2 separate regions of the Homo sapiens genome follow, and region 2 is linked to region 1. Evidence: fine-mapped expression QTL. Tissue or cell type: monocytes. Region 1 holds a variant in brackets; the other region holds the start of a gene. All regions are shown on one strand. Distances are between the middles of the regions.

Evidence for each region. PIP is the estimated chance that this variant, and not a neighbour inherited with it, causes the effect. A credible set is the group of variants that fine-mapping cannot tell apart.
Region 2: ERCC1 starts here. The variant in region 1 is the best candidate, but not a certain one, in a credible set for the expression of ERCC1 in monocytes (TOPMed, PIP 0.83).

The regions. Positions count from the first base shown.
Region 1 is chr19:45,451,526-45,454,369 of GRCh38, reverse strand. It overlaps a transcript of ERCC1 not described here. Among named protein-coding and RNA genes, the nearest start is that of FOSB, 15 kb to the left of the region's middle. The variant A/G (reference allele first, on the strand shown) is at 1,375.
Region 2 is chr19:45,422,719-45,425,367 of GRCh38, reverse strand. ERCC1 (ERCC excision repair 1, endonuclease non-catalytic subunit) reads left to right here and starts at 1,451. Exons shown (of 10, transcript NM_001983.4): 1 at 1,451-1,587; 2 at 1,987-2,098. The coding sequence starts at 1,994. RefSeq lists enhancers at 723-1,017, 1,266-1,315, 1,376-1,465.

The sequences.
Region 1 (2,844 bases):
CCTTGCGATCTGCCTGCCTCGGCCTCCCAAAGTGCTGGGATTACAGGTGTAGGCCACCAGGCCCAGCAAAACAGTTCATTTCTTATAGTTCCCAGCCCCAAAATAGTCCTAGGAGGAAGTCCTTTCTGGAGTCTGACCCTCAGTCTGCCTGCTTCAAATGCGCTCTTTCATCCCTCTTTCACTTCCCACTTTCCCAGTCCCATGGAGTGATTTGAACCTCAATTCCATCCCGTCCCAACTTCACCCTTCATTTACCTTTCCTGAAACCAGACCACGGCTGGGCCTTGTAGCCATTGGGGTGTTCCAGATGCAGCTTCATTGAGTCCCAACTGGCCCTGGAGAAGGTCTGGAACATGCCCATGGTATAGGAAGGAAAGTGAGACTCAGGGCATTTGGGTACCCAGTAACACAGGACTACAGAGCTAAAGCCTGCATCTGCAACCCAGATTCTAGACACGCACACGCACATCCAAGGACACACACAGAGGAAGTAATAATACTGACAACAATCAAAACAGGTATTTTGTAAATGTTTGTTTTCTGCCAGGCATTTTCTAAATGCTTTCCATATGAACTCATTTACTCTCCCACAACAGTCCCATAAACTGGGTCTATTATTCTCCCTATTTGACAGATGAGGAAACCGAGTGCATAGAGGTCCTAATGCTAGCAGGAGGAAGGCCACACAGTTCGGCCGGACGCGGTGGCTCACGCCTGTAATCCCAGCACTTTGAGAGGCTGAGGCAGGTGGATCACTTGAGGTCAGGAGTTTGAGATCAGCCTGGCCAACATGGTGAAACCTCGTCTCTGCTAAAAATACACAAAAATTAGCTGGGCGTGGTGCAGGCACTTGTAATCCCAGCTACTTGGGAGGCTGAGGCAGGAGAATTCGGGAGGCAGAGGTTGCAGTGAGACGGAATCACACGTCTGCACTCCAGCCTGGGTGACAGAGTGAGACTCTGTCTCAAAAAAAAAAAAAAAAAAAAAGACAACAGAGTTCAAATCCATAGTTTTTAGGGGTTTTTTAAATTTTTGTTTTTGTTTTTTGTTTTTCTTTTGAGACAAAGTCTCACTCTGTTGTACAGGCTGGAGTACAGTGGTGTAATCACAGCTCACTGCAGCCTTGATCTCCTGGTCTCTGATGATCCTCCCACCACAGCCTGCCAAGTAGCTGGGATTCCAGGTGTGCACCACCATGCCCGGCTAATTTTCGTTTTGTTTTTATTGTTGTTGTTGTTGTTTGAGACGGAGTTTCACTCTTGTTGCCCAGGCTGGAGTGCAATGACGTGATCTTGGATCACTGCAACCTCTACCTCCCGGGTTTAAGCAATTCTTTAGCTTCAGCCTTCCAAGTGGCTGGGATTACAGGCACCC[A/G]CCACCATGCCTGGCTTTTTTTTCTTTATTTTTAGTAGAGATGGGGTTTCACCATGTTGGCTAGGCTGGTCTCGAACTCCTGACCTCAGGTGATCCACCCTCCTTGGCCTCCCAAATTGCTGGGATTACAGGCATGAGCCACTGCGCCTGGCCTAATTTTTGTATTATGTGTAGAGACAGGGTCTCACCTTGTTGCCCAGGCTGGTCTTGAACTCCAGGTCTCAAGTGATCCTCCTGCCTTAGCCTCCCAAAATGCTGGGATTGCAGGTGTGAGCCAGTGCACCTGGCCTCCTACTCCACGTGGCCCTGATATGTGCCATGAGGCTCTGATATGTGCCCTGCACTGTGGGGGGTGCCAAAAATTAGAGCTACATGGCTACAGAGACCCTCCTGTGCTATGGCCCACGCAGCTTCTAGACACACACAGAAGACCCAGTACCACAAAATCACTTGCAGGGTTACATGGATGTGTGTGCTCGACATGGACATAAGAGTCATCGATTCATTTACCCAACAAGGAATTACTGAGCACCTTCTCTGTGCAGGGTGGTGCTGGGGACCTGGCAGTGACCACAACAGCCTTGGGTCCTGCCCTCACAGGGTGCACAGTCCAGTGGGGGAGATGGACAGTAAACAAAGGAACAAATATATAATTAGACATTGCAATGAATGCTGTGGAGGGAGCTCTGAAAAATAATCTGTACACAAACGCAGGTACCTGCATGGTTACACACAGAAATCCAGAAACACACATGGCTAGGCACGGTGGCTCATGCCTATAATCCTAGCACTGTGGTGGAAGGCCGAGGTGGGAGGATCACTTGGGGCCAGGAATTGGAGACCAGCCTGAGCAACACAGCAAGATCCTGTCTCTACAAAAAAAACCAGAAAATTAGCCGAGTGTAGTGGCGCTTGCCTGTAGTCCCCACTAGTCGGGAGGCTGAGACGGCGGGGATCGCTTGAGCCCAGGAGTTTAAGACTAGCCTGGGCAACACAGCCAGACCCCATCTCTAAAAAACAAACGAAAAAACCAGAAACACACACACACAGAACCAGAAATGCACGGCTAGAGGCAAAACCGTGCACATCCATGGGTACTTATACAGGCATTGTTTCACATAGATGACCACATGCAAGACTCACAACTGCACACACATTCATATCTACACAGTCAGCAGGGCTACACACTCCCATACACCCAGATACACAAGTGCAAACCACAGAAACCACTCACTGAGTCCTGCAGTTTTGCTCTCACACAGGAAATACCAGATGTGCACATTGTCACCGACTGTTGCTCACCTATAGTCACATCCATTCACACTGTCACACACTCAATTTCTTCTCTCTGCTCGGAGATTCGCCCCAGCCCTGGTCACATGAAGCTACTGGATGGGGGGGTGTTGGGAGTGTGTGTTGGGGATGAGTTGTTAGAACCTCCCAGCTGTGGACAGCTTCCCGGACACAGGA
Region 2 (2,649 bases), 29 kb after region 1:
AAAGCCAGATGACCTGCTCATTCTAGGTCATTACTGTTTGGGACCGTGTCTGTGTCCCTCACTGAACTGTAAGCTCTGGGAGGACAACACGGGGCTTTTATCTTTTACGTAGATAAAAGAAATGATAGAATATATCATTATAGCCGTGCACTGTAATCCCAGCACTTTGGGAGGTCACAAAGTGACCTCAGGATCAGCTGAGGTCAGGAGTTTGAGACCAGCCTGGCCAACATGGTGAAACCCCGTCTCTACTAAAAATACAAAAAAAAAAAAAAAAAAAAAAAATTAGCCGGGCATGGTGGCACATGCCTGTAATCCCAGCTACTAAGGAGGCAGGAGAATCGCTTGAACCCGGGAGGGGGAGGTGCAGTGAACTGAGATCGCGCCATTGCACTCCAGCCTGGGTAATAAGAGCGAAACTCCGTCTCGAAAAAAAAAAAAAAAAGAAAAAAAAGAATTTATCATTATGACCCTGGGTTATGGCAGGGCTCTTAACACACCAAAAGCAAAAGTCAGAACGGAACAGATTGATAAATAGTTGCGCATAAACACAAATAACTTCTGTGCCAAAAATAACTAAAGTTAAAGCCCAAAGTAGAAACTAGGAGGAAATGTTTGCAATATGGGTAACTAAGGATTAGAATCAGAATCCATAAAGTACCCCTAGAAATTAATAGTAATAAAAAAGCCATACAACCCATTTTAAAAATGGACAAGGAATATGAGCAAGCAATTCACAGAAGACAAAATTTACAAGACCAATACTTTCACAAAAAACATTCCATTTCCTTAGTAATCAGAGAGCTGCAAGTTAGAACAGTGTGATACTATCCTTTCAGGAAGTGACTAATACTAACTCATCAGCCAGGCCCCTGCTCAGATGTCCCTTCCTCCAGGAAGCCCTTCCGGACTCCGGGGCTGAGTCAGGCGCTCCCCCTGACCCCCATCCCACGGCTCTCCCGGGATCTCCCATCCCAGACCTGCCCATTCTGGGTCAGCACTGGGAACGTGTCTGTGTCCCTTACTGAACCGTAAGCTCCGGGAGGACAACACGGGGCTGTCGTTGGTCACTGCTGTGTCACCAGCACGGACTCGCACAGGACCGGGAAGAGAGGAAGCGCGTGGGGGGAATAGGTGTGGAATAAATGAATGAATGAGGAAACTGAAGCCAAGTCAATGTCTGAGTTGGATTCAAACTTAAGTCTCTCCTTACTGAGAGGAGGGACCAAGTTGGATCTCCTGCGATCTGTTCTCCACTGAGCCCTGCCAGGATTCTGGGCACACAGAAGCGCTCAGTAAGGGCTTTGAAACTTAACAGTTTGGGAGCCAGATCCTCAGGCCACATCTCTCTCCTCCCACGACCTCCGCGGTCCTCCAGAACCATAGAGAGTTGTACAGAGATCGCCCTGCTCTATGCTCTACTCTCCTGGGGAGCGGGGCCAGAGAGGCCGGAAGTGCTGCGAGCCCTGGGCCACGCTGGCCGTGCTGGCAGTGGGCCGCCTCGATCCCTCTGCAGTCTTTCCCTTGAGGCTCCAAGACCAGCAGGTGAGGCCTCGCGGCGCTGAAACCGTGAGGCCCGGACCACAGGTGCGGGAGGCGGAGACTGCGGGTGGAGATTGGCGCCGCGGAAGCCAATCATTGCCGAGTCTGAGAGATGGACAAGGCCAGGCGTGGGGAGGGCGTCCAGATGCTAGCCTCGGGGGCCGGACGAACGGAAGGCGGGGGATGGTGGGGACGGAGCCAATAGAATCCGGTGGGGGCGAGGGGCGGAGCGATGGGACTTGTGGACCTGTAAGGGGCGGGGCGAGCCGAAGGTGGAGGTCAAAGGGGCGTGGCGTTACAGAGCCTCTAGCGCTGGGTGTTGGGGACCTGACGCTATGGAGCTCTCGGAGTTTTGTGGGGGACGGCTGTGAGTGGGGGGTTCCTGCTGCGGGATGAGAACGTAGACGCCAGTGGCTCACTCGCTCCTGGCACCTTCCCTTTCAGGCTCCAGATGGACCCTGGGAAGGACAAAGAGGGGGTGCCCCAGCCCTCAGGGCCGCCAGCAAGGAAGAAATTTGTGATACCCCTCGACGAGGATGAGGTCCCTCCTGGAGTGGTAGGACAAGGAGATGCGGGGCCCCTGGGAGGCTGGGGGCTGTTAGGACGAAGAGGATAGGATGGGGCCTGTGGGACCAGGGTGTGGGTTAGTGGATTTGGGGGCCACGGACGACTTGGGGAAACAGTCCTTGGTCCTCCCCAGGTCCCAGTTTCCCCATCTGTGAAATGGATGGGTGGTTCTAAGAGAGGGCTAAGGCAGAGGCCAGACACTGGCATTCAGCAGGTAGCCCCTGATGTGTTTTACGAGGCCAGCACCCTGATTTTTCAAGACATGAATTTATTGCTCGTGTTTAAGAATCGCCAGGTTTTGCAATCTTAAAAAAATCTACACTTTAGACATATTTTGGTAAATGGAAGGACCTGGCAATATTGAAATCTCCTTCCCAAGGGAAAACAATCGACGGGTGATGAGCATTGGCTATGAAGAAAAGGAAAGTGGGCTAAGGATGTAGGGCATGATGGGGGAGAGGACCTTCCTACTCTATTTATTTATTTATTTATTTATTTTTTTGAGACAGAGTCTCGCTCTTTTGCCCAGGCTGGAGTGCA